Homo sapiens: one gene and its partner. The protein of the gene in region 2 purifies or fractionates together with the protein of the main gene of each other region. This does not show direct contact. Each region holds a gene or a part of one and is shown on either strand. Other genes may lie near its edges.

Region 1 (5,234 bases), on a different chromosome or scaffold from region 2:
AGCCAACACTGCGGGCCCTGGGCAGTAGCTGCCGGCTTGGGAATGCAGAAGGAAGCAGGGAGGCTGCCACTCACTCCGGCTGCCCCCCAATTCTTCCCTTCCTCTCTGTGCCCTTCCTCTGAGAGGGTGAGCCCCAGGGTTCCCTCACTCCTCACAGAGTGAAACTGCTCCAGGCGCCCAGTCATGCCGGGTCACAGAGAAGGGAGAGCCAGACTCTTGCAGTGGACAGTTATAACGCCAGGGACAAGGACAAGGAACCACAACACAAATGTCTCAAGGACACAAAATAGTGGGTTCACACCGGCCCCACAGACTGTACACATTCTTGAGCCCTGAGGGGAAGGCAGTTTGGTCTTCTGGGAGTGGAGAGGGAGAAGGTGGACACGCTCAAGACACACTCAGAGGGACACATAACCGGTAACCAACCAAGCCACAGCAGGGGGCTTGCAGAGGACACACGAGCATCATCCACTCCTCAGTCACAGCAGCATCGTGCACTTGGGAACAGCAAGGGGCCAGGGGCGTGCCCTGGGCTGGGGCAGCTGCGTAGCCCCTCTCCATCAGCTAGAGACAGGCCGGGGCGGGGTTCTGAGATCTTCCTCACTGCTATGAACTGCAGCCACGTACGAGAAGAGACATAATACGGAGTAGCAGATTTCGTGGGCCTAGAGGAGAGAAAACCAGGCGGATCACGATACTGAGACTCCTCCATCTCCATATGTGAAGGATCTGCCAATGGGCAACTCCTGCCCTAACACTGGGCATGGGCCTCTGGGCTAAACGTGAGCTCCAAGCAAGGAAGCTGTCCCCATGGGAGAGGGGATCCGTGTGTGTGTGTCTGTCTCTCAGGGCTCAAGACCTGTTTCAGCCTGAGTTGAACCTTTGGCAACAAAACGAGGTCCCCACTCACCCCTGTGCGCTCAGAGGGCCCTCCCCTCCTCCTGTCCGAAGGTCCCCCAGGGAGCCCTGCGCACCGTGGCCCATCAGGGTTGAGCGGCACACTCACCATTGGTGTCTTGTACTTGTGGCTCACCACTTCTTTAATTTCAGGAACTAAAACCGGACGGGCAAGAGACAAAACAGAAAGTTCAACACTAAGAGCAATCGTGCCATGCTCCCCCAGGCGGCAGCGCCCGGCGTCAGGGTCCCCTTCCCCTCTGTGGCCTCTCACAGTGGCTGCAGCAGCTTAGGCTATGACAGGGCAGAGGCCACCAGAGGCTCTGTCCAGACTCTGCCAGCTGGGAGGACATGGCCCTAGCCTCCTCAGCTAGGCCTCTGTCATCCGCAGTGGCGTTTACTTGATGGCCGTGATTCTACCCACTTCTTTGAAAGCCCTGGATGGGAGGGACGGGCCTTTCACCAGCCTGGTCACAGCTACTGTCCAGGGCCCCTGAGGAGCTGCAGTGGGGAATTCCCAGGTTTTGGCTGGGAGGAGAGAGCTCTCTCTAGCTTGTGTCCAACTTTGCTGAGACACCCGTGAACTCGTCACCAGCCTGAAAATTGGGTCATGTTAAACACAGTTCCCGTTATTCCCAGCCCCCTACACAGAGGGTCTTGAGGCTGGATGAAGAGGTAACATGATATAAACCCACAGGATGTGGCAGTGTCCTTCCCTGAGTGGCAGGAGAAGCCCAGACCTGCCTGTGTGAGGGAGAGCGTCTGAGGGCTCTGGAGCAACACACCCAGCAGAAGACAGGCGAGTACAGCACCCAGGGAGGGAGGTGACAGGGAGCATCAGGCAAAATACACACATGTCCACAGCCCAGAAGGCAAGAGTGAGAGTCCCCCCGCTCCAGCCATGCAGGGGTTCTGCTTGGCCAGAGGAAGGAGTAGGCCCCCCAGGCTCAGCCACCATCATGGCCCCTTGAGACTGGGAGCAGAGGGGCCTGGCATCTCCCTGGGGGCCAGAAAAGGCAGGAGGAGAATTGGCCGTACCTTCTTCTGACCCTGGGAGGTAGAATTTGGGGGAACCCAGGGTCAGCAGGGAATAAACTCATCAAAGGTAGAGCAAGAAGCCCCAGGCCATTCTCCCGAGTTGGAAGATTCCCCCAAGTATCTCTCTGACAGAAGAGAGAAGGGAACACACGGGGAGGAAAGTCCAGTGAGCCGGTGAGAAGGGGGAGGCAAGGTAGGAAGAAAGAGGGTAGGGGAGAAAGGAAGAGACGAGCTGGCAGTGTGAGGAGCTGGTTCGATGGGAGCTACCCACCCAGGGCAGGGCCCAAGGCAGAGACCTGGGGAGAGGCAGCACGAGCCGAGGTCACTTTACCTGCTGGAGAACGAAGGTTTTCATAGCAGCGATGAGGGGCACAAAAGAATGAAGCACAAACACAGCAGGAACTCAAAGCCCCAGGGTGAGAACCCACTACACCACTCCCTAGCGCTGGCTCCCAGCTTCCGGCTACAGCTGTCCCGCTAGACTCCTCTGTCCCTCAAGTGAGTCTGCCTGCGACGCCCGGTGCCCCTTTGTCTGGCACAGAGGCCAGGTGGAGACCAGAGCGGCGCCAGGGAGGCTGGCTAGCGCACTGGGCTGCTAGAGAGATTGCAGCAGGTGACATGGACATAGTGGAGCTTGGGGGTCGCCAGTCTGCTGTGTCCCAAACTTTCTGACCACTGGCTGGCCCAGCACGGGGAGGTGGTGCTACTTCACTGAGCTGCTTCAGGACCACCTCTAAACTCGAAACCCACCTGAGGCCCCATTTGCTCTTCTGCGATCCATTATCTATCTTTCCCTTCCACATCCCGGCTCTCATCTCAGGGGTCCCTTTTCTTCCTTGTCACTCCTGCTCCTCCTGACTTCTCTACAGAGGTTCTTCTTCTCCCTGCCCCTAGACCCTCCTCTGGAGCTCCGAGGTTTGAGTTACTGCCATGTGAGTCCAGACCTAAGAGCAAAATAGTGTAATTACCAAATTCCTCCAGGACAAAGACGCCTCGAACTGTATTGCACTTTTTAATGTGATTCAGCTCTATGAAAACCTGCAAGAGAGGGAGGGAGGCCGGGGTAAGGCCCACAGGCTCCACCCCTGCCCCACACAGCACACTCTCCCAGCTACAGCCCCACCCACACAAAGAAAGTCTATTTCCCAAAGAGAGGACAGAAGAATCCACACGCACACAACTCAAAAGCGCTAAGAAGCGAAGATAGCAGAAAGGGCATGTACCTTCCGCTCCTGGCCGGAGGAGAAAGCATGGGAGAGAAATGAAGGCGTTAGTTTGAATGGTCAAACCCAACCCGAAGGCCCTGCTGCTGGCCTGGGCTGCCCGCCCGTACCCTCTGCCCAGGGCAGTGCTTGTAAGACACAGTGCCCCAGGGGTCCCCACTCAGCCCATTAGGTCTCTACCCTTCCATGCATCCTCCTCCGGCGCAGAGGGCTGGCACGGGCGCAAAGCTCCCCTCAGACTGTCCTCAGGGTGGGAGGTGTTGGTATCCTCCTTGAAACAGGATCCAGGATCTCCCAAGAGGTATGTGGTGATAATAATATCAGCTACCACTTGCTGAGCACCTACTTGGGGTTTTACAAATACGATTTCTAATCTCTGCACCTACTACGTGACACAGTAAATAGTATTACCCCCATTTTCTACATGAGGAAACTATGGATCAGAAAGTTTCTTTGCCCATGAACGTGGAAGCTGGGCTTCAAATCCAAGCATGTCCTCACACCGAAGCCTGTGCTTTTCCCATTTACCCCAGACTGCACAGCTCCACCAGGAGGTCTGCTGCCTCCTCCACTCCAACTGAACACTGTGTGGCAGAATAGGGGGCAGGTCGCTATCTCATTACTAACTGTGAGGTGAGATTGAGAACCCGGGCTTTCCTCCCCTTCTCTGCAGTCTATCTTCTAGGGGCCAAGCCTTCAACCACAGACTGGCTTGGATGGCTGCCCAGTGGGGCTATGCCAAGGGCAGGACGAGGAACAGGGCAGAGCACCTGGGCGTTGCTCAGCAAGATCTCATCTTCAGAGGCCACGGCGCTAAAATGTGGTCAGAAGTCTGCTCCCCAAGAAGTACTGACACCTTTGTGGTCCAGAAAAGCACTTAGGTAGACCCCTCTCTGGGATGGTCCTAAGGTCTTTGGGGTTGGCTACTGCCCTAAGTCCTAAATTGAAAATATACTAAGGGGCTGCTGGCAGCCTGCGCAGCCATTTCCTGTTAAACCAAAGCTGCCCAGCTACGTTCCTGAAAGAGAGCTACAACGGCTAGCGGAGGGAGGGAGACAGCCACGTCAGTCAGGCATCCACCTCCCCTGAGGGTCTGCGGCCTGGCCAGGGTCTGTGGGGCTTCACACATTTGGGTCTGGCTCAGAGCCTCAGGGAGAGGAACCCGGACATCAGGGAAAGAGGAGGGAAGGCACTTGTGTGAGGAGTCAGAGCTGTGAACGGACCTGGGATGATGCGCTGGCCTCAGAAAGGAATTAGCTTAAGGAATGTCCACTGAGAGAAAAAGGTAACACTGTGTTAAAAGACCAAGAGAGAAAAAAAAAAGTCAGCTCCTATGGTGGAATTACAATGAGGGAAAGATGTATCCACAAGTGCTCCCCAATCAAAAGAAAGGGAATGGGGCCTGTGGAGCAGGGGACAGAGTGGGAACACTCAGAGGAAGGAAAAGAACAGGAAGAAGAATCCGCAGAAGAAAAAGGCAAATAAACACACTCCAGAGAGGACAGATACAAGCTACTTACACACAAGCACGCAGGCACGCACGCACGCACACGCAAGCTGCACGCACACCAGAAAGACACAAGGAGATCGGCCAGTCTAGACTCTCAAAGCAAAACCACCAAGCAGAAGCATATCCTGGGAATAGAGGAAGGCAGAGACACTGCAGGGGAAGGGCCAAGTGAGACGCTCCCACTCACACTGTGTGGAGTCCAACGGATGGGGCAGCGTGGCCACCTGGCCTCGCTCCTGCCCAGCCTCCCCCACGGGCTCCCTGGTGCACCTTCACAGCGCCAGGTGGTCGCCAACGTCACTGTGCCCTCCCCTGGGGTTTCTTTCCTGGGTCCAGCTGCTCCAGTTCTCCCTCTAGCTCCAGAGGGCCCTCTCTCATGCTTGCTGGGGAAGTACTGGGGGCTTGGACATTGGTCCTTCTTACAGATGGAACGACAGGGAGCCTCGTGCTGCCGCTCGCACCTACCTGATTGTGCATGAATTTGAGGTTGATCCCTTCCAGGGTCACCTGCAGCAGGCCACCCTCACCAGTCTTCAGGTCCTGCACAGGGAACTCGCCACCCAATT
Region 2 (5,234 bases):
TATGTATCAATTTATAAAAAGCAAAAGGGCCGGGTGCCGTGGCTCACGTCTGTAATCCCAGCACTTCAGGAAGCCAAGGCGGGTGGATCACGAGGTCAGGAGATCAAGACCATCCTGGCTAACACAGTGAAATTCTGTCTCTGCTAAAAATACAAAAAATTAGCTGGGCGTGGTGGCATGCAGCTACTCAGGAGGCTCAGGCAAGAGAATCGCTTGAACCCGGGAGGCAGAGGTTGCAGTGAGCCGAGTCTGAGCCACTGCACTCCAGCCTAGGTGACAGAGTTGAGACTCTGTCTCAAAAAAAAAAAAAAAAAAGTGAAAGTATTTGACAAAATCTAACATCCATTTCTGATTTAAAAACATGAAAAACCAAAAATTTCTCAGCAAATTTGAAACAGAAGGGAACTTCCTCAACCTGATAAGGGCATTTACAAAAAACCCCACAAAAAAACCCCTAAATCTAATAGCACACTTAACGGTGAAGGATTGAATTATTTCTCTCTAAAATCATGAATAACACAAAGATGTTCACTGTCACCACTTCTAGTCAACATTGCACTCAAGGTTATAACTAGTGCAGTAAGGTAAAAAGAATAAAAAAGGATTAAAAAAGAAGTAAAACTACCTTTATTTGCAGATGACGATTGTGTAAATGTACCCAGAATTTTCTTTTTATTGTCAATTATTCCCCAAATTCATCCAGTGATACAACATAATTCCAAACAAAATCACAGCAGACTTTAATGTAGAAACTGAAAAGGTGATTCTAAAATTCATATGGAAATGCAAATGTCTTCAAATAGCCAAAACAACTTTGAATAAGAACAAAGTGGTATGGCTAACACTACACAATTTCAAGGCTTACTATAAAGCTACAGTAATTAAGACAGTGTGAAAATGACATGATGATAACAGATCAACTGAACAGAAAAAAAGAGTCCAGAAATAGATCCACTTACACGTGAACAGAGATACGAAGACAATTCAATTGAAGACAGGTCAGTCTTTTCAACAAATGGTGCTGGCACAACTGGATAGCTTTTTTTTTTTTTAAAGAATTTGAATCTATAATCATGAACCATATACAAAAACTAACTCAAAATGGGACCTTTTACCTAAATGTAAAACCCAAAGCTATAAAACTGCTAGAAGAAAACATGAGAGAAAATATTTGTGACCTTAGGTGAGGCAATGGTTTCTTAGATAAGACACTAAAATCCCAATCTATAAAAGAACAAACTGACAAATTGGACATGTTCAAAATGTAAAACGTCTGCTCTTTGAAACACAGGGTTAAAGAGCATGAAAAGGTAAGCCACGGGGCATTCCTGTAGGCTATTGAGGACTTCATCAACAGGCTACACTAAATTTACTGTTAAAATGTTTCTTTCTTCAACAATAAATTAACCTTACCTTACTGTAACTTTTTTACTTTATAAACTTTTTAATCTCTAACGTTTTACCTCTTTTGTAATAACACTAAGCTGAAAATACAACACACCATACAGCTGTACAAAAATATTTTCCTTCTTTATATCCTCATTCTATAAGCTTTTTCCAATTAAAAAATTTTTGTTGGTAAACTTTCTTGTTAAAACCTAAGACACAAACACACACATTAGCCTAGGCCTACACAGGGTTGGGATCATCAATGTCACTGTCTTCCATCTCCACATCTTGCCCCACTGGAAGGTCTTCAGGGGAAATATTAATAACATACATGAACCTGTCATTTCCTGTGATGATAATGCCTTCTTCTGGATAATTCTTGAAGGACTTGCCTGAGGCTGTTTTACAGTTAACATTCTTTTTAGAAGTATAAGCAGTATACTCTAAAATAACAATAACAAGTATACTATAGTAAATACATAAACCAGTAACAAAGTCGTTTTATGATCGTTTATAAATATTATGTGATGTATGCAATGGTATGTGCTACATTGTTGTGTAACTGGCAGCCCAGGTTTGTTGTTTATACTGGCATCACCACAAACACAACGTCACTGGGCAAGAGAAACTTTTCAGGTCCATTATAATCTTATGGGACTACCATCATATATATAATAAATCACATGACTGTGTATGAATATACAAACATACACTCTCAAAACGCAGTAAGAAAGCAAATAATCCATTACAAATGGGAAAACTATATGGATGGTCACTTAGCAAAAAAAAGACATATGGATGGCAAATAAGCATATGAAAAGATGCCCTACACCACTAGTCATAAGGGAAATGCAAATTTAAGCCACAGTAAGATACCACTTAACATCTATTGGAATTGCCAAAATTTAAAAGACAGACCATAGCAAATGCTGACAAGAATGTGGAGGAAATAGAACTCTCACACACTGCTCATAGGTATGTAGAACTGTAGGTACAAGCACTTTGGAAAACAGTTGGGGCAGCTTCTTAAAAAGTAAAACACATACCTACATCTGATCCAGCCATTCCACTGGCAAGTAAATGGCTTGCCACCCAAGAGAAAAGAAACCACATGTTCATTCAAAGACTTGCATAAGAATATTAAAAACAACTTTATTTAATAGCCTCAAATTGGAAACCCACATTTCCATCACCAGGTGAATAAATGAACTATGGAATACTGCAAAATGGACACTTAGTACTCAGCAATAAAAAGAATGAACTATTGATATATACAACATGGACAAATCTCAAAAGAGAGTACTGCATGATTTATGATATACTGACATAAATTTCTAGATAATGCAAACTCATCTGTGACTACTTGGAAAAGAAAAGAAGGAAGGGATTACGAAAGGGCACCACAAAACTTATGGGGGTGATAAATTCATTATCTTGAACTTATGGTGACAGTTTCAGGGTGTGTACATATATCAACACACATCAAAGTTTACACTTCAAATATATATAGTGTGTAATACGTCGACTGTACCTCAATAAAACTGTTTTAAAAATCACTGTCATTCTGCTTCAGCTGGAAGTGAAAGACACACAGCAACCAAACTGTCAGTAAAAAAACAAAAAAAATGTACAAGACATACGGTTATTCTCTTGTAAATTTCCATATCATCTATGCTTGTCATACTAACTCATTTTGTAAGGTGAATTTTGTTTTGTTAGTCTGGCAGGTTTTATGTAGTTGCTATAAAGTATAATGAATGACTAGAGGAGTTAAAAATAATTGTTACTTTATGTCAGAATAAATATGCTATAAACTATTAAGGTATTCTCCATTCATTTATTCAATGTTTCTAGTCAGTTACTTATAGAACAGTGGGCCAAGAAAAATATGTTTTAAAAACATAAGAGCTCCACAAAACTCCTATGATTCACATCAATTGTCAGATTCAGTTCTATTTTATCATTTTGTCCTTATTGTCCCATCCATGCCCTGTATACATCCCTATCACAGCATTTAAAATACTTTATTAAACTTTCTAGTTTATATGTTTATTTCTTATAATGGTCTTAGTTTTTTCAGGTAGAAGGCATGTTTGATTAATTTCTATATCCTCAGCTCCTAGTACAGCACCTAGCATATACACCATCTTAAAGTTCCACTAAGGGACTTAAAGGAAGATCTGAATAAATAATGTAACATTGTTCATGGATGTCAAGATGTCAATTTGACTCCAATTAATCTATAAATCCAAAACAATTCATTTTTTTAAAATCCTATGAAAATTGTATAAAGTCTGTGGTCTAGTTAATAGTACTGCACCAATGTCAATGTCCTAATTTTGTCCTCATTTTGATTACACTACAGTTATAAAACAGGTCAACATTAGGGGAAGCTGAGTGGACGATTCTAAAACCTCTATGTGCAATTTTTGCAACTGCCTTTGAGTCTTCAATTATTATTAAAGACTTTTAAAAATCCCATGAACATAGCAAGTTTTCCAAAATTGCATGGAAACATAAAGGTCGAAACATAGTTGTCAACTTTAAAAAAAAAAAAAAAAAACGAAAGCGGGGCAACTAGCACTATCCGATTTTTGGACACATCACAAAGCCACAGAAGGAAAGAGAATATGATGATGACAAAAGAGCAGATTAATGAACCAATGGATTATGACAGAGAGCTCAGAAACAGACCCGTATATATAGGATAACTTGACATAAACCAGCCAAGGTTGGGTTGTCACGTGATGGGATTAAGAAAACTGGCTTGCTCTATGGAGAAAAATAGGTTCTTATCACACTTGAAACAAAGATAGAATCCAAATTAAAGACCTAAAAATGAACAGTAAAACTATGAAGCTATTATGGAAGAAAATGTAGGAGAACATCCTGGTGATTTGGGGACAGGGAAGGAGTTCTTAAGACAAGCCACACACCATAAAGCAAAACATTGGCAAGTTCTGCATTAAAAGTAAAGATTTCTGTTCAACAAAGGGCACCACAGAAAAAAACAACAGATGGGTGACACACTAGAAAACATTCGTAATGCCTAAATGGAGAATGAACACCCACAGAGTATACAAGGTACCCATGCAAATCAACATGAGAAGGACAATAAACCCAATGTTTAAAAGTAGACCACAGAAATTAGGCAATTCACAAAAAGGAAAAAAAAAAATTTTAAGTATACTGCTCACAAGCATATACAAAGATAATTAAACACTAATAATTAATGAAATTCAAATTAAAACAAAGCAATAACTATTTCACAATCTTCAGACTGGAAAAATTAGAAAGACAATACCAAATGTTGGTAAGAAAGTGGAGACGAGGTACCCTCTCCTGCACCATCATGGGAAGGCAATGTGCAATTGTCATCCTGGAAAGCAATTAGTTTGTGAAATGAGATACGCACCTACTTTATGGCGCCATCCCATCCTAGGGGCAGTCTCAGAGCAATTATGGCACAAGACTATATAAAGGGACATGAATGAGTATGTTTACCAGAGTTGTTTGTGATAGCAGGGAGTTGGAAGTTACCTAAAAGGTCTGTTAAGGAAGCTCTTTTAGATACTTTGGAATCCTATGCTGTCAGAAGCAGTGAAATGGTTGTACACACAGCAATATGAAGAGATCTTGAAACAGTATTGTGTCACCATATTAAGAAGCAGAACAAGATCTACAACATAATCCCAGTTAGGCAAATTAAACTCACACATGCATGTGTGCGCACACCCATACACAATAGTGCTATCTATTTTATAGCAACAACTAACGTGGTTGCCTACAGGGATTGTGGATGAGGCAGGAAACGGGAGTGAAAATTAGGGAGGAAGAAAATCAAC

Evidence for each region. Proteins that work in one complex are often made in the same cells at the same time.
Region 1: the proteins of MTMR9 (region 2) and MADD purify together in Homo sapiens (affinity purification with mass spectrometry; one large-scale study listed by BioGRID and IntAct). This does not show direct contact.

The regions. Positions count from the first base shown.
Region 1 is NC_000011.10:47,324,477-47,329,710, reverse strand, and holds part of MADD (MAP kinase-activating death domain protein), read right to left. Parts: coding exon 5,134-5,234; intron 4,450-5,133; exon of another isoform or gene 4,378-4,449; intron 3,168-4,377; coding exon 3,159-3,167; intron 2,974-3,158; coding exon 2,904-2,973; intron 1,054-2,903; coding exon 1,007-1,053; intron 666-1,006; coding exon 561-665; 3' UTR 1-560. UniProt on the Homo sapiens protein: Guanyl-nucleotide exchange factor that regulates small GTPases of the Rab family. Converts GDP-bound inactive form of RAB27A and RAB27B to the GTP-bound active forms.
Region 2 is NC_000008.11:11,289,582-11,294,815, reverse strand, and holds part of MTMR9 (myotubularin-related protein 9), read right to left. Parts: intron 1-5,234. UniProt on the Homo sapiens protein: Acts as an adapter for myotubularin-related phosphatases. Increases lipid phosphatase MTMR6 catalytic activity, specifically towards phosphatidylinositol 3,5-bisphosphate and MTMR6 binding affinity for phosphorylated phosphatidylinositols.